6 linked regions of the Homo sapiens genome follow. The protein of the gene in region 2 purifies or fractionates together with the protein of the main gene of each other region. This does not show direct contact. Each region holds a gene or a part of one and is shown on either strand. Other genes may lie near its edges.

The links.
Region 1: the proteins of PMM1 (region 2) and VPS33A purify together in Homo sapiens (affinity purification with mass spectrometry; one large-scale study listed by BioGRID and IntAct). This does not show direct contact.
Region 3: the proteins of PMM1 (region 2) and E2F3 purify together in Homo sapiens (pull-down; one large-scale study listed by IntAct). This does not show direct contact.
Region 4: the proteins of PMM1 (region 2) and DSG4 purify together in Homo sapiens (affinity purification with mass spectrometry; 3 studies listed by BioGRID and IntAct, with this or other methods). This does not show direct contact.
Region 5: the proteins of PMM1 (region 2) and POTEE purify together in Homo sapiens (affinity purification with mass spectrometry; 3 studies listed by BioGRID and IntAct, with this or other methods). This does not show direct contact.
Region 6: the proteins of PMM1 (region 2) and QRICH1 purify together in Homo sapiens (affinity purification with mass spectrometry; 3 studies listed by BioGRID and IntAct, with this or other methods). This does not show direct contact.

What each region holds. Positions count from the first base shown.
Region 1 is NC_000012.12:122,256,495-122,259,994, reverse strand, and holds part of VPS33A (vacuolar protein sorting-associated protein 33A), read left to right. Parts: intron 1-3,500.
Region 2 is NC_000022.11:41,583,341-41,586,840, reverse strand, and holds part of PMM1 (phosphomannomutase 1), read left to right. Parts: intron 1-647; coding exon 648-765; intron 766-2,237; coding exon 2,238-2,314; intron 2,315-2,468; coding exon 2,469-2,560; intron 2,561-2,782; coding exon 2,783-2,882; intron 2,883-3,500. UniProt on the Homo sapiens protein: Involved in the synthesis of the GDP-mannose and dolichol-phosphate-mannose required for a number of critical mannosyl transfer reactions. In addition, may be responsible for the degradation of glucose-1,6-bisphosphate in ischemic brain.
Region 3 is NC_000006.12:20,474,879-20,478,378, reverse strand, and holds part of E2F3 (transcription factor E2F3), read right to left. Parts: intron 1-3,500.
Region 4 is NC_000018.10:31,386,777-31,390,276, forward strand, and holds part of DSG4 (desmoglein-4 isoform 2 preproprotein), read left to right. Parts: coding exon 1-43; intron 44-1,590; coding exon 1,591-1,746; intron 1,747-2,097; coding exon 2,098-2,242; intron 2,243-3,500.
Region 5 is NC_000002.12:131,212,536-131,216,035, reverse strand, and holds part of POTEE (POTE ankyrin domain family member E), read right to left. Parts: intron 1-3,500.
Region 6 is NC_000003.12:49,045,572-49,049,071, forward strand, and holds part of QRICH1 (transcriptional regulator QRICH1), read right to left. Parts: intron 1,676-3,500; coding exon 1,498-1,675; intron 1,009-1,497; coding exon 854-1,008; intron 1-853. UniProt on the Homo sapiens protein: Transcriptional regulator that acts as a mediator of the integrated stress response (ISR) through transcriptional control of protein homeostasis under conditions of ER stress.

The sequences.
Region 1 (3,500 bases), on a different chromosome or scaffold from region 2:
AATACCTCACTGCAGCCTTGACCTCCTAGGCTTGAACGAATTTTCAGCCTCAGCCTTTTGAGTAGCTGGAACTACAGGCATGTGCCGCCACACCTGGCTAATTTTTTTTTAATTTCTTTTTTTTTCTATTTTTATTTTTTGGAGAGACAGCGTCTTATTATGTTGTCCAGGCTGGTTTTGAACTTATTCTGGAGATTTTTTAGAAATGAAATTCTATAATACATAAATGGTCCTTTGTGTCTGGCATCTTCACTTAGTGTAATGTTTTGAGGGTTCACCCAGGTTGAAGCCTGCGCGAGGCCTTCATTCCTTCTTATTGCTGAATAGTATTCCATTGTAATGATATTATCATTCATCAGCTGATGGACACCTGATGGGTTGTTTCCACTTTTTGGCTGTCACGATACTGTGAATATTGTGAAAAGTTTTTATGTGGATGTATGGTTTCATTTCTCTTAGATATACCTAGGAGTAGAGACTGGGCGTGGTGGCTCACGCCTGTGATCCTAGCACTTTGGGAGGCTGAGGTGGATGGATCACTTGAGGTTGGGAGTTCAAGACCAGCCTGACCAACATGGAGAAATCCCGTCTCTACTAAAAATACAAAATTAGCCAGGCATGATGGCGCATGCCTGTAATCCCAGCTACTTGGGAGGCTGAGGCGGGAGAATTGCTTGAACCTGGGAGGTGGAGGTTACAGTGAGCTGAGATCACGCCATTGCACTCCAGCCTGGGCAACAAGAGTGAAACTCTGTCTCAAAAATACATACATACATACATACATACATACATACATACATACATACACACATACATACACACACACACACCCCTAGGAGTAGAATTGCTGAGTTGTGGTAACTCTGCATTTAACATTTGGAGGAGCTGCCAAACTCTTTTGCACTGAAGCTGTACCGTTTGTACTCCCAGCAGCAGTGTGGGAGGGTTCCAGTTGTATATCCACATGGACAGACTTATTATTCTGTCTTTTTTTTTTTTTTTTTTTTTGAGATGGATTGTCACTTTGTCACCCAGCCTGGAGTACAGTGGTGCGATCTCGATCTTGGCACACTGCAACCTCGGCCTCCCAGGCTCAAGCAATTCTCCCGCCTCAGCTTCCTGAGTAGATGGGATTACAAGCATGCACCACCACGCCTGGCTAGTTTTTGTATTTTTAGTGGAGATGGGGTTTCGCCATGTTGGTCAGGCTGGTCTTGAACTCCTGACCTCAGGTGATCCACCTATCTCAGCCTCCCAAAGTGCTGCGATTACAGGCGTGAGCCACCATGCCTGGCCTGTTATTCTTTGAATTTAGTCATCCTACTGAGTATGAAGTGGTGTCTCATTGTAGTTTTTATTTGCATTTCCATAATGACTAAGGATGTTGATCATCTTTTCTTGTGCCTGTTGGCCTTTGTCTTCAGCTAAACAAATGTCTGTTCAGATCACTTGCCCATTTTTAAAATTGGGTTCTGTCATTTTTATTACAGAATTGTAAGAATTCTTAATAGATTCTAAATGCAAGTCTCTCCTCAGATACATGATTTCCAAGTATTTTCTTTTGTTCTGTGAGTTCTTTTCACTTTCTTGGTGAGATTGGTGTCGTTCGATGCACTAAAGTTTTAAATTTTGGTGAAGTCTCTTTTATCCAGTTTTTCTCTTGTTACTTGTGCTTTCAGTATCATCTCTGAGAAGCCATTGCCTACCCCAGGATCACAAAGATTCACTCTGATGTTTCCTTCTAAGAGTTCTATAATTTTTTATTTTTTAAAGAGACAGGTCTCACTATGTTGCCCAGGCTGGTCTCACACTCCTGAGCTCAGGCAATCCTCCCGCCTCAGCCTCCCAAAGTGCTGGGATTACAGGTGTGACCCACCGCGCCCAGCTTATAATTTTTCTACATCTTATGTTTAGGTCTTCAACCCATTTTAAGTTAATTCTGTATGTAATGCAAGGTGGGTGTCCAAATTTCATTTTTTACACATGGATATCTATTTGTTCCAGCACTATTTGTTGAAAAGACTGTATTTTCCTCATTGAATTGTTTTGGTACCCTTGTCAAAAATCAATTGTCCACAAATGTAAGGGTCTGTTTTTGGTCTTTTAGTTCTGTTTCACTGATCTATATGTCTGTATGTCCGTCCTTATGCCAGTACTACACTGTCTTGATTACAGTAGCTTTGCCATAAGCTTTGAAATCAGAAGTGTGAGTCCTTCACCCTAAAGCAGGTAAATATATCACTTTTGTTCTTTTAGATTGTGCTTTTTGAGTCTTCATAAATCTTCCACTCTGCAGACAAAGAAGAAAATCTTTTTTTTTTTGAGATGGAGTCTCACACTGTCACCCAGGCTGGAGTGCACTGGTGTAATCTCAGCTCACTGCAACCTTCACCTCCCAGGTTCAAGCAGTTCTCCTGCCTCAGCCTCCCAAGTAACTAGGATTACAGGCACACACCACCACGCCCAGCTAATTTTTTTGTGTATTAGTAGAGACGGGGTTTCACCGTGTTGTCCAGCCTCCTGAGCTTCCACCTGCGCCCGGCCCTTTTTTTTTTTTTTTTTTTTTTTGAGGCAGAGTCTCACTCTGTTGCCCAGGCTGGAGTGCAGTGGCACAGTCTCGACTCACTGCAACCTCCGCCTTCTGGGTTCAAGCAGTTCTCTTGCCTCAGCCTCTCAAGTAGCTGGGATTACAGGCATCCACCACCACGCCCGCCTAATTTTTGTATTTTTAGTAGAGACGGGATTTTACCATGTTGCCCAGACTGATCTCGATGTCCTGACCTCAGATGATCCACCTGCCTCGGCCTCTGAAAGTGCTGGAATTACAGGCGTGAGCCACTGTGCCTGGCCTGAAGCTACTTTTTACCCCAGTTCTCAGACTGCCCCTTATCCCAGAAGCAATCACTATTTCTCTTTTAATTTGGGGTGGGGGGATATTATATGCAGCTACAGCTCATAGTATATAATCCCTCCCCACTTTTGTACAAGTAGTAGCATATGATATATATACTTTGGTATGTTGCGTTATTCTCTTAATAATATCTCTGAGTCATTTTCTACCACGTATGGCAATACTTGTTTATTCTCATTTGAAGCTGCATAGAGTTCCATTGTTTGGATGTACATAATGTATTAAATCAGCTTTCTGTTGGAGAGCATTTTTTTCCTCTCTACGCTGTTGGAGGCAGTGCTGCCGAGAATGAGCCTGTTTGTAGGCCCCTCTGCACATGCGCCCTTTGTAGGCTGCGTTCGCCTTTGTCATTTCTTTTGACATTGCTTCTGGTAATTTTGGCTGTGTGTATGTTTTTAACATAATCACACTTACCCATGTTTCTTTGATTTATGAGTTTATGATGCTGCTGCTGCTGGTGCCGCTGCTGCTGCTCTGGAGACTAGAACTTTTTTTTTTTTAATTGTTTTTGAGACAGATTCTCACTCAGTCACCCAGGCTGGGATGCAGTGGCACAATCTCGTCTCACCGCAACTTCCACCTCCCCAGT
Region 2 (3,500 bases):
AGCCCATGCCTGGCTAATTTTTAAAAACTTTCGGCCAGGCACGGTGGCTCACGCCTATAATCCCAGCACTTTGGGAGGCCCAGGCGGATGGATCACCTGAAGTCAGGAGTTCAAGACCAGCCTGGCCAACATGGCGAAACCCTGTCTCTACTAAAAATTTAAAACTTAGCTGGGCATGGTGGCAGGCGCCTGTAATCCCAGCTACTCGGGAGGCTGAGGCAGAAGAATCGCTTGAACCCGGGAGGCAGAGGTTGCAGTGAGCTGAGATCACGCCATCGCACTCCAGCCTGGGCAGAGGTTTCAGTGAGCCAGAATCACACCACTGCACTCCAGCCTGGATGACAGAACAAAAATTCGTCTCCAAAAAAATTTTTTTTTTCATAGAGACAATGTCTTCCTTTGCTGCCTAGGCTCTAGTCTCAAACTCCTGGGTCAAGTGATCTTTCTGCCTTGGCCTCGCAAAGTGTTGGGATTGCAGACCTGAGCCACAGTGTCCAACCTGTCTAATTTTTGGTGTCTAAGCTTTGTACTGCTTCAGATCCAGGTAGAATGTGGGCTTCCTGGGTTCTCAGCACTAAGTGAGGGCTAAGTGGAGGTCCCAGACATGTTGAAAGCCAGAATGCTATGCTTCCCCTCTCCCCCCATAGAAAATTGACCCTGAGGTGGCCGCCTTCCTGCAGAAGCTACGAAGTAGAGTGCAGATCGGTGTGGTGGGCGGCTCTGACTACTGTAAGATCGCTGAGCAGCTGGGTGACGGGGATGAAGGTAGGAGTGAGGCTGGGGGTAGAGGGAGTGGGGAGTTTGAGAGATTCCTGGGCGTCTTCAAAGATCCAGTCCTGCTTCTGTGGGGCAGAAGAAATAGAGAGAGAGCAGCCAGATAGTTCCCTTACTGATTTGACAAACACTTGAGCACTTCCTATTGCCAGGGATTGTGCCAGGCCCTTGAGAAATGGCTGGGGCAAAGCAAGCAGAACCTGCCCTTATGCAGTTTACATTCTCATTTCTCCCTGCTGAGTCTTGATTTCCTCATCTTTAAAATGGGCTGAACCAGCCGGCACAGTGGCTTACGCCTGTAATCCCAGCACTTTGGGAGGCCGAGGCGGATGGATCACTTGAGATGAGGAGTTCAAGACCAGCCTGGCCAACATGGTGAAACCCCGTCTCTACTAAAAATACAAAAAATTAGCTGGGTGTGTTGGCACGTGCCTGTAATCCCAGCTACTCGGGAGGCTGAGGCAGGAGAATCGCTTGAACCTGGGAGGCGGAGGTTGCAGTGAGCCAAGATCAGGCCACTGCACTCCAGCCTGGGTGACAGAGTGAGGCTACACATCCAAAAATAAATAAATAAATAAATAAATAAATAAATAAATAAATAAAAGGGCAGAACCAATGATGGCTACCATTTGTCAAAAATGATCATGTGTTAATGTCATTGCATTTGATCCCCACAATCACACTTTAGAGTAGGCGTGATCATCCCATTTAACAGAGGATGACTCTGAAGTTATCCAGGAAATCGACTGGACCTCAGAGCCCCTGGTCTCAGCCCAGTCAAAGTGGGTGCCTCCAGTTCCTCAAGCCAGAAACTTCCTCGAATTTTTCCTTTTCCCCACCTCTTGTTTATTCCATCAGCAAACCCCAAAATATCTCCCTGTCCCCTCTGTCTCCATCTCCACCACGCCATCATAGTCCAGGTAACCACGTGCCACCCAGACCCCGCAACAGCCTCTGGGCTGTGCTCCCTGTGCCTCCCACCTCCCACCCACTCCAACTGCTTCGCCTGGCAGTCAGAGCTGAAACCTCCAACTCTCCCATGCAGCCAGCCTTGAGAACCCAGTGCGATGGCAGCTATAGAACAGAAGGGAGCCCCTCTGCAGAGGGGCAGGGGAGCACAGAGTGGAAATGATGCCCTCTGCCAGAGAGTACTGCATGGCTTCCAGAGGAGGAAGCTGAATCTTGGAGGATGAGTGGCAGGGAAGCCAGGGAAGGGCGGTTCTGACAGAAGGACCTGCATGGATGCCTGTGTGCAGAGGCCCACAGGTGTGACTGGCTTCTTTGGAAGAAAACCAAGCTGCAGAGGGAGAAAGGCTGGAGAAGCAGGTTGTAGCCTCAGATTGAACAAATGGCCTTTGAATGTGAAACCAAGGGTGTAGGCTTCCTCTCTCTTTACTTGCCCGTGGGGTCACAGACGTGGTCTCACACTCTTTCTTCCTCCTGTCCTCTATGTGACCCTGAAGTCATTGAGAAGTTTGATTATGTGTTTGCCGAGAACGGGACGGTGCAGTATAAGCACGGACGACTGCTCTCCAAGCAGGTCAGTGTCCCCCAGGGCTTAGCCAGGGGCACCCCACTTTTCCATAGTGGAGCAGTCCAAGGGGGCTTCTGTCCTGGGCTGGGGGAGAGACACTGTGCCTGTCTCAGGGTCAGGCAGCCCAGGCCACGCTCAGAGCCCTGTGTTCCTTGGCCAGACCATCCAGAACCACCTGGGGGAGGAGCTGCTGCAGGACTTGATCAACTTCTGCCTCAGCTACATGGCCCTGCTCAGGCTGCCCAAGAAGCGGTGAGGTCCCACCAGCCTGGTCTCCAGAACCTGGGGCCTGAGGGAGGAGAAGTGTGGGTCCCTCAGAGGGAACCTGGAGATACTTGGGCCCCTGATTTTTTGCGGGGAGTGTGGATTCTTGTCCCCTTTGAAGTCCTAGGAGGCTGGGGTCCCAGGTGGGGCTAGATTTGAATTCAGGGCCGTTCTGGTTCTCTCTGGCTCCCCGCCCTCCCTCACCACCAGTGGAACCTTCATCGAGTTCCGGAATGGCATGCTGAACATCTCGCCCATCGGCCGGAGCTGCACCCTGGAGGAGAGGATCGAGTTCTCCGAACTGGACAAGGTACCACTAGCTATGCAATCTTAGGCCTGTAGGGCCTCAGTCACTCAATTTATCTGAGCCTTTATTTTCTCATCAGTAAAATAGACTGGGGGATGTGTTCTGATTTAACTGATACCCTTTCAGGCACCTACTGTGTGCCATTGTTGTAGACACACCTGCATCTTTACAATGCTGCTGGTCCCCCTTCCTAGGTGACCAGCACCAGGCAGCCACCCACTGAGCCAGGCCAACACCTGGGAACATCATTTCCACCTTCCCACCCACATCGGGTCCAACAACTCTTATTTCATCAGCCTCTCGAGTCAGTGTCAAATCTGTTCATCTGCAGAACTGAGACCCCACTTTCTAGATTACCCCTTTCCCCAGCCCCAGGCTGCCCCAACTTTCCTCTCTGTCCCTCCCTACCCCTTGCATAGCCCTGCCAGCCTGCTCTCCAGCAATGCCACTGAGAACCTTTCTTTCTTTTTCTTTTTGGAGATAGAGTCTCCAAAAAAATAGATAGAGGCTGGAGTGCAGTGGCATGATCTCAGCTCACTGCAACTCCCACCTCCCGTGTTCAAGCGATTCTCCTGCCTCAGCCTCCCAAGTAGCTGGAATTACAGGCATGCACCACTACAC
Region 3 (3,500 bases), on a different chromosome or scaffold from region 2:
AAACTGACATGTGCTATAATTGTAAAATACACACTGAATTTCGAAGACTTAGTACAAAACAGGGTAAAATATCTCAACAATTTTAGTAGTGATCACATGTTAAATGAAATAAATAAAATACAACTGACCCTTGAACAACATGGGTTTGGACTGTCCGTTTCCACTGATTTTATTTTTTTAGAGACAGGGTCTTGCTCTGCCGCCCAGGCTGGAGTGCAGTGGTGTGATCTCAGCTCACTGCAACCTTGTCCTCCCAGGCTCAAGGAATCCTCCCATCTCAGCCTCCTGAGTAGATGGGACCACAGGTGCACACCATGATGTCTGGCTAATTTAAATTTTTTTTTTTTTGGGTAGAGATGGGGCCTCTGTATGTTGCCCAGGCTGGTGTTGAACTCTTGGGCTCAAGTGATCCTCCTGCCTCATCCTCCCAAAGTGCTGGGATTACAGCCGTGAGCCACTGCACCCGGCCATGAGTGTGTCCACCTATATGTGGGTTTTCTTCTTCCTCTGTCATCCCTGAGACAGTAAGACCAACCCCTCCTCTTTTCTTTCACCACACCTTCCTCAATGTGAAGATAACGAGGATGAATTTTATGATGATCCACTTCCAGTAATGAATAGTAAATCTATTTTCTCTTCCTTATGATTTTTTTTTCATCCAGCTGCTTTATATGCCCATATGCCTTCTACACTTTGAACCCTGGACCAAGTTCAGCTGCTAGGAAACGCAAATTCCAGAGCATACCTAAGATGCATTGGATCAGAAACTCTGGGAATGGGGCTGAGCAATCTAACAGGCCTTCCAGGTGATTCTGATACACCTTAAAGTTGGAGAAACCTGGCTTTAGATCATAAGGGAAAAGAGTAAGACACTCAGGCAAAGCCCAGCTCTGCCCAGCACGGCCTATTTCACACACCCTCACCTCTAGTCCTGCTTGGCTGATGAGGGAAATCTATCCTGTGGATTCCACTTTCATTCATTCCAAACTTTCTTTTATTGATAACATTTCCTCTCTAACTTCATTGTAAGAATACAGTATATAATACATATACCATATGAAATGTGTTAATGACTGTTTATGTTATTGGTAAGGCTTCTAGTCAACAGTAGGCTATTAGGGCTGGGTGCATGGATCACACCTGTAATCCCAGCTACTCAGGAGGATGACTTGAGGCCAAGAGTTCAAGACCAGCCTGATCAACGTAGCAAGACCCCCCATCACTAAAATAATAATGAAAACCCCAAACAACAGGCTATTAGTTAAGTTTAGGGGAGTCAAAAGATCTATCTAAATTTTTGACTGTGTCAGGGCACCTCTAACCCCAATGTTGTTAATGGGTCAGATGTAGCATTAAAATTATTTCATCTGTTTCTTTATATATATATTTTACGATGTGGCTTGCCTCAGTGGCACACCTTATCTTTCTACTGCAGTGCTAAGTTAAACATCATTCTAATGGCTCCGGAAGGACAATCTGCTTGCTGGACTTCATCTTCCCCTCCCAGCCATTCTGTCAAGTCCTTGTGTGGGCCTGCTGTGGTTGGTCCAGCAAACATTCACTCTTTATCAGGCAGAAGCTCCCTGTTTGTTCCTTGGGGAGCCATCCCTTTCCTGGTCTAAGCGCATCTGTGCACACAGGTGATCCAGGCCTGGCTAATCATTGTGGCCCATCCTGCCCTCCCCGCCCCCACCGCGAACAGGTTGAATGGCTTATGACCAAGGCTGGAGGAGCAAAGGCTAACCCCAGGAATGTTTCTGGAACTATCTGGCAAGAAGCAGGTATGTCTTTCCAGTAAGGTTGGTAAGTGAGGAGCCTAAAGCTGCCTGAGAATGGGGCCTTCCCAGGGGAAAGCAGAGTGGAGAGAAGGAGAGAGAGGGGTCTGAGACCACCACTCAAAACTCTGGCTCTGGTCATGCCCTGGGGGCAACTGTTGGTCTTTCCCAGACTTTCCAGTTACATTAGCCAATAAACTCTCCTTTTTGCTTAAAGCATTTTTTTTTTTTGAGACCCGGAGTCTCGCTCTGTCACCCAGGCTGGAGTGCAGTGGTGCAATTTCAACTTATTGCAAGCTCCGCCTCCCGGGTTCATGCCATTCTCCTGCCTCAGCCTCTCGAGTAGCTGGGACTACAGGCGTCCGCCACCACGCCCGGCTAATTTTTTGTAGTTTTAGTAGAGACGGGGTTTCACCATGTTAGCCAGGATCTTCTTGATCTCCTGACCTCGTGATCCGCCTTCCTCGGCCTCCTCAAGTGCTGGGATTACAGGCGTGAGCCACCGTGCCCAGCTGCTTCAAGTGTTTTGAGTCGGGAACCTAGAATTGTGCTGTTGCCAGTGACAGCTTATGGAACTGGCTGAGTCAAGATGGCTATGGTGTGACAGGGAGTTGGCAGGCCTTGTTAGAGAGTGGCAGAGTGTGTTGGTCACTTCTTGTGACCGCCAGGAAGATACTACAGATAGAGAGAAACTTCATCTGAGGCTGGCCCGCCTCAAAGAAAACAGCTTTGCTATGGAGGCCTTCTCTACAGAAAGCAATCTAAGGAGACATAGAGCTGTATTCTCTGCCCAAATTAAAGTCAACAAATGGGCTGGGCACAATGGCTCACGCCTGTAATCCCAGCACTTTGAGAGGCCGAGGTAGGCAGATCACCTGAGGTCAGGAGTTTGAGACCAGCCTGGTGAAACCCTAACTCTACTAAAAATACAAAAAGTAGCCCAGCATGGTAGCATGCACCTGTAGTTCCAGTTACTTGGGAGGCTGGGGCATGAGAATTGCTTGAACCTGGGAGGTGGAGGTTGGTGCCTCCGCAATCCAGCCTGGATGACAGAGAAAGACTCTTGTCTCAAAAAATGAAAATAAAGTGAACAGAAAGAAGGCAAACTTGGAAAAGAGTCTGGGACCCAGAACTCCTAGGGACCTAGGGCCGTGCCTCAGCAGTAAAGAACCACCCACTGGTCAGCAGGCTGGGGGCATACTAGTTTTATCTCTCCCTCCCAGGCTGCTGTTTCAGACTGCCATGAGGCAAAGGCCTATGGAACCATTAAACTGTAGGTTAGGGAAATTTCCATGTCTGCTGCTAAGTGACTGAGACTTAACTTCGAAAGACCGGGACTAGTCTTCATGTGTAACTCTCGTTACTAAGCACCAAACCATAAATTGACCAAATTTGAATGCTAGATGGACAAGCTACTAAAATTGCAAGGCACTTTTATTGCGAAAGAATCACTAAGTCTAGAAAGTGAAGGTCCATGATGTTGAACCTCTAAGGAAATCAATCACTAGGTCCAAAAGCCACGCCAGAAATAAGTGAGGTGTGAAGAAGGGGCAGCCCCAGAATTCCTCCCAGGAGGTGGAACTTGGGGTGGACTTATAGGCTCTACAAACTGCTGTCCCTGTGGAGGACATGACAAGAAGCAGGAGGTGAGCACTTTATGTCATTTCCCCTTTTCAGAAGGGAGGTTCCCGTTGGGTTATCCTGTTATTTTTCCTCCCCTGTTGA
Region 4 (3,500 bases), on a different chromosome or scaffold from region 2:
TCGAGAAGGAGAGGACAACTCGAAGAGGAACCCCATTGCCAAAGTAAGTGATGAAGCAATCTGATGACAAATGCTTTTGCAGAGCAGGGAAGCTTTCAAATATCTCCAAGATTTGCAGGCTTCACTGCTCCACAGTTATTTAAGAAGACAGAATGTGGTCATTTGCTCCAGTTGCTGAGCCACTGATTTGAATATCATGTGCAGGGAGGCTGACGTGGGGCAGGCAGTCAATGGCAAGTGATTCTAGAAGAAAGGGCTGGATCTCCAGCACAACTGGGCTTTGTTCATCCATTTGTGTACTGCTCATTATTGCCTGTCAATGTCATAGGAAACGTATTCACATAGTGACAGTCTGAAGCCTGGCCCTCCAGAAAGTCAAGCCAAGTTTACTGCACTAGATGAATTAACTCCAGGAAAGTAAGGATAGTATCAAAAGTTCCCACCAGATCTCTACATCCAGAAAATAAGAGAGTCTTATAAGACTTTCACAAATAATGCCTACTGAAAAGGAAGGAGAGTTAAAGAATGTGTAATAAATTGATCCAGGAAGGATGGGATCCACATTAATAGCTTCATTCACTCTTTCTGGACATCTTGATCCTGAACAGTAAAGTGATCTGCAGAATTCCCTCCTTCCAGCTTTATATTAAAAACATAGTAAGCATCAGCAGTGGTGTTACAGATACAACCTCAGCTCAAGAAAACAGATGTATTCTCTCTCAGATGTTTTCAAATTGGAGGGACGCTTTTAAATTATTATTTCCATTCAACTCAGTAATTGCTTTATGTTATTCCACTTATATTGCATATTCTTTTCTTTTTCTCTGCATTTTGGGAGGTTCTTGAGTTTTCTTCTATGTAAAAAGGGCCTTTGGATTAGAGTTAAGCTAACCAAAGTTCTATTTCCAGCAGTCTTTATTTGACTGTGAATGTGTGGGTAAAAAATCTTACTATTTTACTGAATGCTCTTATCGTTAGTATATAGGTGAGATTTCAAAATTGTTTCAGTTTAAATTTATCAGCAATAGGTAATAAAGCTACTAAAGCAAAATCTGTGTGGCAGAATATTTGCCATAAAATCTATTTGGCAGAAAAGTGATGCAGTATGTTTACATTTATAAAATTATTACAAATATCTCTAACCATTATAGTTTTCTGATATTCTCAACTTATCTACCATTTTGACTAAATCTCAGACTCCAGCTTAGGTAGGATACTTATTAATATGACACAAGTTATTTTTAAAAAATAGTAAATGTTGTAATTTCTTTTGTGAAGCTATTTCTGCGTATGCTAAAAAATCAGAGAATTGAACAATGTGTTATTAACAACAAACCTAGCACCAAGTGTGTATGTTATACACATTACCTCATGTAATTCCCACAACAAATCTGTGTGATATTATCCCCACTGTAAGCTGATCTGGGCAAAGTTAAGTAAATTTTCCAGGGTCACACAGGACTAAGTCATGGTGTCAGGTTTCAATCCAAAGCCCATTTGGTAAAGAAACCCACTCCCTTCTTATTCCACTACACTCTTAAGCATTATCTGCTCTAAACTGGATCACAATCCTAGCTATTTTTCTTATAGATTCGATCAGACTGCGAATCGAACCAGAAGATAACATACCGGATTTCTGGAGTAGGGATTGATCGACCACCATATGGGGTATTCACCATTAATCCTCGCACTGGGGAAATTAACATCACTTCAGTGGTAGACAGAGAAATAACTCCACTTTTCTTGGTAAGTCATAGCCATATGTTTTGATTTGTTCATATTAGTTTTCTTCCCTTTTTCAAAAAATATTATCTTAAGATAATGGATTACTTTTGATAAAACATGGCAGACTGAACCCAAATAGAAGACTTGAAGGAATGGAAAGAGTGTGAAAATAAAAGTTTATAGTTCAGGATTCTCTGGTATGTTGCATGTACATGTAGTCAAGTGTCCTGATCATATTTAAATTATTTGACTGTACTACAGTCTGAATTCACTGGAAAAAATTGTTTCTTTGCCTATTTTCTGATATATTTTCAAGCATGTTACTAAAATTCCTTTGGTGGAAAAAGATGGCTTTTTTCCAATTTTCCACAGATCTATTGCCGGGCTCTGAATTCACGGGGTGAAGATTTAGAAAGGCCTCTTGAGCTTAGAGTCAAAGTTATGGACATAAATGATAACGCTCCAGTCTTTTCGCAAAGTGTATACACAGCCAGCATTGAAGAAAATAGTGATGCCAGTAAGTAGAATGACATTCCTTCTCTACGTCACAGCATATCTACTTCTCTTGGTCAAAAGCTTTAGAGGACTGACATACAGGAAATGTAAAGGACAGAAAAAGCCACACTTGTATTTTGAATAAACCCCACATATTTTAATTTATAACTGAGCTAGAAAAAGAAATCATGTCTAAAATGATAAAATAAAATATCTTCTTACTTGCGGAAGGTCCCTACAGGGATTTAGCAGGTGCTTAGCACCTTGCTTAAAGATTGCTACTGGGCTCATGAAGAACTAAATCCAAGCGAGCAAACTGAGGAATAAACCAGGAATGTTTAAGAAGGCTCTGTTCTGGTCTCTTACTCAAAATGTTTGGCTGACCCACACCAGGTAGAGCGTGATGGTGGAAGCACACGCAATTGTACCCATCAGATCAATCACTAAGGGTAATCATTGATCTTCACAGACTACATAGCAAACTACATTCTATTCTCTCATTTTCTTTCATTTCTTTCCATTCCACTTAATTCCATTTCCAGTTCTAATACCCTCTGTCTTTCCTTTATATTAATTCTCCTGAACTTCTTTCCTTCCTACTCTTATGCTTTTCTTATATGGCTACTTTCCTATCTCTCCTCTCCCTTTGCCTTCTGACCTTGATTTTACATACAGCACATGAATATCAGTTTGTTCCCCAAACCCCTGTTGTCCCTTTCCCTTTCAAATCTATGTCTGCCCATATACCTCTAAACAAATTTGGGGGGAAATAATAGGAAAAATAAATTTCAGGAAAAAAGGCAGATAAACACAAAATTTTTTTTTGAACTAGGATAGTCCTCCCATAGAGAGGCAAAGAGATTTTGCCTAGGAGAGCCAACACAAAGAGAGACTCCGAAGTCCATCTTTGCTTCCTCATCAACACACCTCAAAACAACACTGGTGAAGGAAGAGAAGGTGAAACCCACAACCAAGTCTCCCTGCCTAGGAAGCAAAAGAACATCAGGGACCTGACAATTCTGAAAAGTCTGTCCTGTAGATTGACATCCTTGGGGATTTGCCTAAGATACCTGTTCTTTCTACCTATGAGTAATTAGGAACTTCTTATATTGCTATGGACAAGTCTTCTTTTCAATAATTATAAATTTGTGACTGTTTGGTAAAATGCTATCTTCCAATGCAACCAAGAGTAATTATCTGCTTTCTGGAAAAGTGGCAATTAAGAATATAGGTGTTCAATACATAATTATAATGTTGCATTTAATTAAACTATAATTTTC
Region 5 (3,500 bases), on a different chromosome or scaffold from region 2:
GTATGGAAACCAATGTTAATTTTGTAACTCTCAACTTTATTGAATATAGTGTTTATCAGCTGTAATGGGTTTTTTGTGGAGTCTAAAACACAGACAATCTCACCCCTTCCCTTCCTATTTAGATGCCTTTCCTTTCTTTGCCTTGTATAATTACTCTGGCAAGTCAGTTACATATAACGTTCTCAGCATTTGTAATTTGACATCAAATCCATCTGTTGTAATACACTGATTGTTACTTTTCAACTCGAAAACATGGACATTTATCACTACTCTCCCTTTCTCTTGGTCTAGTTGTTATTTAAAAAAAAACCTATCAATGCAAACCAGGATATTTTTCTACAAAACAATTTCAAACACACTAAAAGGTTTTAATCTAACAATTTTTAAACTTTCTTTGTCAATGACTTTGAACTGTGGTCTCTCGGAACAAATCCAACACCTTTAGTAGAAAAATTATGTTAATTCCTACATTATCATTGGGTCTAGCCAAGAGTTGACCAAAGGTGATATTAACAGATATGCTTATTTATTACCTTGTTCTCAAAGTTCTAGCGTAAGTCTTGAAAAATCTAGTAAAAATTTGTAAAGACTATAATTGCACAAACTCCCTCTCTCATGAGTCACACAGTTAATCCAGAATACTATTTCTAAGTTATTGTAAAGCCAACAAGTAAATATGATGTAGTGTATAAAAATAATCCTAATTGCATTGTATATTCTGTAAGTGACATATGCAATTGATACTATTTACTAAATATCTCATAATTATATTTATTTACATAGAAAAAAGGAATCAAAAACATATCTATTATCTAACGTTTAAATGATTAAAAATACTTGAGATAGCATTGCTACATAAATGCTATGTAAATGCTGAAGAAAGTAAAAATGTCATTCCCTACATTTGCTAAATATATTGTGACACATTATAAGCATTTTTAAAATATATCACTAATGGTTGGGTCAAGTCAGCAAAAATGATTCTAAGTATTTAATTGTGGAAAAATTTAGTACAGGGGATAGTATTCATGTGATGGAAGGATTTTAAATGGAACCCAGAGATTAGCAGCAGCAGTAAGTTTTAATTGCATACCAGGTGCAGAGTCTAGGATACAAGACAGAACTGCAGATAAAATCTGACTCCTTCCAGCATAGCTAGGAGACATGGCTAACTCCACCTGTCCGGAGACCTTACCTAGAAATCTAACGGCTCCAAACCAGGTAAACAAAACTATTTTCCAAAGTCAAAGCATCAATTTATGACATTAAAGCACTTCTAAAACTTAACCTCTGACTTAAATTAGACCAAATGGATAAATTTTGAAGATATTTTTATTTTACCACTGACTTTAACACCATCTTTATTTCCCAAAGATTACTGAAGTCACATGAAATAAAAGGCATTAGAGCTTCTATTTTTCTTACAAAATATTTAAGAGCTTTCATTTTCTTTTAAGCCGAGCCATTATATATACATCACATACACAACACTTCTAGACAAGAAAAGATCTAGCAGTTGTTCAGTTTTTCTTTCCCACTTTATGAACCATAACACAACTTCCACAGACTATCTACGACATGATTAAATTTATCTGACCTGTCCTGTATTTCCCTCTTTTGTAATTAGTCATTCTACTTTAGGACAACAATTTGCCATATAAGATCCTCTCTCATATAACATTTCTTTCCTTCATAACATTTCTTATAATAAATACATCTTCATATCCACAATTTTCTTTAGATCTCTCTCCCCTACTAATTTCTGATGCCCATCCAAACCAAAAAGGTCAGACAACGCAAGGCAAAACAGAGGAGAGCCTTAGATTTTTGAGAGGGACCTGTCTGCTTAAAGTTCTTGGGGTTCCATGAGGAAAACAGAGGTTTCTCCTAAAATGGGGTTTGTGGAACCTTCTGTTTTTCCTTAAGGAGTCCCAGGTTGTCAGAAATTACCTTAGATCCTCTCATGTGGGCATCAAGAGTGGCAACAAGAGAGACTGGGGTAATAATTCAGACAACTGAGCAGAAAAAGAAAAACTTACTACTGTCCCCACTGTAATGATGGATAAACTGAGGCACCATGCAGTTCAAAAATTCATGTTCACATAATTAGGATCCACAGCTCACTCTCTTAAATAATTTTGCCAACTCTATGCCCAGTCACTGATGCACCTGTATGGTAGCTCATGGCCCCCTTGGAACTTAGAACCTGGGTTTCATTCCTGCTCTACGGCTATATAATTCAACAATTTTCCTTTGAATTTGTTGGACTCTAACCCTGTATATCTCAAATTTTATTAGTATTACTGAATCTTAAAGGGAGCTGTGACGTCTTTAGTCTTTAGAAATATTAAACCTATAAACAAGGACTATATGAGGTTAAACAGTATTCAAATTTCTATATGCTTTAAAACATGGACACAATGTATTGAGAAACACACCTACAAAACTGCACCCCATCAACTCTGGACAAAAATTTAGATATTATCTCTTCAATATAACCTATCTAGTGGTATTTATACATATTCTTCCATGTATCAATGGTATATTACATGCTCATAACCTTAAAAATAACAAGTGTTCAAATTATAGGCCTTACACATTTCTACGGGCTTGAAAAATGATACAATATAGATTGTCTTTAAAGCAGTCAAGAAAATGCATAAACTTCTAGAGGAATCAGTAAAATAAAGATAAAAAGTTCACACCTAAAGTAGTAATACTAGGAATAAAAGAGGGCTCGACACTGCAGGTTCTTAGATACAAAAGTTAATAAAGCCTTGTTTTTGGTTGTGAATCTTTGCCTTAAAATACACACAGCCGACCGAGGTGGGTGGATCACCTGAGGTCAGGTGTTCTAGGCCAGCCTGGCCAACATGGTGAAACCCCATCTCTACTAAAAATACAAAAATTAGCCGGGCGTGGTGGCAGGCACCTATAATCCCAGCTACTCAGGGGGCCAAGGCAGGAGAACTGCTTTCACCCAGGAGGCAGGGGTTGCAGTGAGCCAAGATCGGGCCATCGTACTACAGCCTGGGGGACAAGAGCGAGACTTCATCTCAAAAAAAAAAAAATTACACACAATTCTCCCGACTTCCTTTTTCTCTTGCAAAGAGGTGGTGATGAACCAGGTTTGCTCAGGCAGATGGCAATACTCTTGAAAATGGTGGCAGAGAGCCAGGCGTGGTGGCTCACACCTCCAATCCCAGCACTTTGGGAAGCTGAGACAGGTGGATCACTTGAAGTCGGGAGTTCAAGACCAGCCTGACCAACATAGAGAAAACCCATCTCTATTAAAAACACAAAGTTAGCTGGGCATGGTGGCACATGCCTGCAATCCCAGTTACTCGGGAGGCTGAGGCAGGAGACTTGCTTGAACCCAGGAAGCGGAGGTTGCAGTGAGCCGAGATCGCCCCATTGCACTCCAGCCTGGGCAACAAGAGCAAAACTCCATCTCAAAAAAAAAAAGAAAGAAAACAAAGGAAATGGTGGCAGAGAAAATG
Region 6 (3,500 bases), on a different chromosome or scaffold from region 2:
AGGTGTGTGCCACCACACCCAGCTAATTTTTTTTCTTTTCGTTTTTCAGACAGGGTCTCACTCTGTCACCCAGGCTGGAGTGTAGTGACATAATCATGACTCACTACAGCCCCAACCTCTGGGGCTCAAGCAATCCTCCCACCTCAGCCTCCCAAGTAGCTGGGACTACAGGCATGCATTACCATACCCAGCTAATTTTTTGTAGAGATGGGGTTTCACTATGTTGCCTAGGCTGGTCTCAAACTCCTGGGGCTCAAGCGATCCTCCTGCCTTGAGCCTCCCAAAGTGCTGGGATTACAGGTGTGAGACATCTTGCCTGGCTCTTATTTTTTTTCTTTTCTTTTCTTTTTTTTTTAATTTTTGAGACAGAGTCTCGCTCTGTCACCCAGACTGGAGTAAAATGCTGTGATCTCAGCTCATTGCAACCTCTACCTCCCGGGTTCAAGCGATTCTCATGCCTCAGCCTCCCAAATAGCAGGGATTATAGGCAGTGCACCACCACACCTGGCAAATTTTTCTATTTTTAGTGGATGGGGTTTCACCATGTTGGCTGGGCTGGTCGTCTTCAACTCCTGACCTCAAGTGATCCACCTGCCTCGGCCTCCCAAAGCGCTGGGATTACAGGCGTGAGCCACCAGCGCCCGGCCCCGGCTGTTATTTTCTAAAGTGAACGTGTAGGTTTTTAAAACTTAAAAAAAAAAAAAAAACAACAAATGTGTATTTTAAAACTCACTGTATACCTGAAAGAGAACTTCCTTATTTTAACTTCTTGCTTATCAATTTATTAACTAAACTAGCAAACATCCAATAGGAACACAGCTCAAACATGTTCTTGTGAAGATCTGTTTCCTACCTTTTGAATACACAGGAAAATATAGTAGAGCACATCTGGGTCATAGGGTTCACCTTCTCCATTTCGAGCTTCCCGTGTCATTAGACAGAGCCCATAATTCAACTCTGCCACAGCAGAGGAGATGAGATCTTCCTGGAATCGCAGCAGTTGGCGCCCTGCAACGGAAGCCTCAAAAATGAATGAAGGTCCTGGGGGTCCATATCTGGAAGGCTCAGAACAGATACTGCCCATCAGGGTGCTGGGATAGAAATGCTCACTTGTATCTACTAGAATGTTTCATGCCTGTAATGTCAGAACTGGCCTATAACATGAGTATATGAGCCTAATGCCAAGAAAGAAGGGCTTGAGTGCCTATCCCTGGTTCCCATTTCCTCCCAGAAGCCACTCTGCTTAGGTCTGGTAGGGTCAACTCCTGAAACCCGTATGTCTAAAAATGCCTGGTTTTGGGCAAACCCCACATATCCTGCTTATTATGTACACAAGGTCAGTACTGCTTGTTACTAGGCTTGAATTCAACATACTATTACAGATGTTGCTCTCTTGTCCCCAAGACAGGAGACACCACTTTTCTGGCATTTTGTCCTCCTGTTACTTTAGTACCATTGCATTTTAGACACAGCCCACTCTTCTTCCAAGACACTCACTCCCAATGGGTGCCAATCTGTTCTGAGCATCCTTCTCTAGTTCAGCATTCTTGGTCTGGGCCCAGTTTTTCCATACTTCAAGCCCTTCTTCTGGCTTCAAAGAATTTGGAAGCAGAAGTTCTGGGGAAGGCTGTGGCTGTGACTGTGGTTCAACTTCAGCAACCTGGACAGTTTGAGCCTATAGGAGAGAAACCATGAAAATGTGTCAATATTGTTTTATATTAGATCCTTCTGCAAAATTGCCAGAAAAATGTTATGTATAGTTCATTTATTTAAGAAAATATTTCTCTACTCATTGCTGTCCTACTTTTAAGAAGCTTTGGAGTTCTACCTCTTGCCCCAGGGACAGCAAAAGCAGCACTGCAACTGGGCTAGTGCAGTGCTTCTCAGCCTTGGCTGCACTTTTAAATGTTTTTTTTTTTTTTTTTTTTTGAGACGGAGTTTTCCTCTTGTTGCTCAGGCTGGAGTGCAATGGCGCAATCTCAGCTCACTGCACCCTCCGCCTCCCGGGTTCAAGTGAGTCTCCTGTCTCAGCCTCCCGAGTACCTGGGTTTACAGGCATGCACCAACACGGCCAGCTAATTTTATAATTTTAGTCGAGACGGAGTTTCGCCATGTTGGTCAGGCTGGTCTTGAACTCCCAACCTCAGGTAATCTGCCCGCCTCAGTCTCCCAAAGTGCTGGGATTACAGGCGTGAACCACTGTGCCCGGTCAAATCTTTTATTTAAAAACACTAATAGCCAGACTTACCCCAGAATCTCTCTGAGGGGGAGCCAAGGTATCAATTGTTTAAAAACTCCTTGAGTAAGATTGCACCACTGCACTCCAGCCTGGTGATAGAGCGAGACTCTGTCTCGAAAAAAGAAAAAAGAAAAAACAAAACAAAACAAAAAAACTCCTCAAGTAAAAAAGTAATTCTAATGTTTGGTCACCACTGAGAACTACTGGCTCAAAGCACTGCTCCCACAGTCTTTAATGTGCAAACAAATCACTTGGGGATTTTATCAAAATGCATATTCTGATTGAAAAGGGTAGGAACTGAGACAACATTTCTTTCTTTCTTTTTTTTTTTTTTGGCGGGGAAAGAGTTTCGCTCTTGTTCTTGGATGCTGGAGTGCAATGGCAGGATCTCGGCTCACCTCAACCTCTGTCTCCCGGGTTCAAGCTATTCTCCTGCCTCAGCCTCCCAAGTAGCTAGGATTACAGGCATGTGCCACCACGCCCGGCTAATTTTGTATTTTTAGTAGAGATGGGGTTTCTCCATGTTGGTCAGGCTGGTCTTGACTCCCATCTTCAGGTGATCCGCCCTCCTCAGCCTCCCAAAGTGCTGGGACTACAGGCTTGGGCCATCGGCCGAGAGCACTGATTCTTAAACTGGGTCTCACCTTGAAATCATCTGGATTGCTTTAAAAAAAAAAAAAAAAAAAAACCCACCCTGGCCGGGTGCAGTGGCTCACACCTGTAGTCCCAGCACTTTGGGAGGCCGAGGTGGGTGGATCACGAGGTCAAGAGACTGAGACCATCCTGGCTAACACGGTGAAACCCCATCTCTACTAAAATACAAAAAAATCAGCCGGGTGTGGTGGCGGGCGCCTGTAGTCCCAGCTACTCAGGAGGCTGAGGCAGGAGAATGGCATGAATCCAGGAGGCGGAGCTTGCAGTGAGCCGAGATCGCACCACTGTACTCCAGCCTGGGTAACAGAGTGAGACTCTGTTCACAAAAAAAAAAACCAAAAAAAAAAAAAAAGAAAGAAACCTCACACTTGGGCCTTATCTCCAGCCATTGTAAGGTAGAGGCACATTGTCAGTATTTTTAAAAGCTTCCCATGTGATTTTTTTTTTTTCCCTCTGAGATGGAGTCTTGCTCTTTCGCCTAGGCTGGAGTGCAGTGGCACGATCTCGGCTCACTGCAACCTTCACCTCCCAGGTTCAAACGATTCTCCTTTCTCAGCCTCCCGAGTAGCTAGGATTACAGATATGCACCACCATGCCCAACTAATTT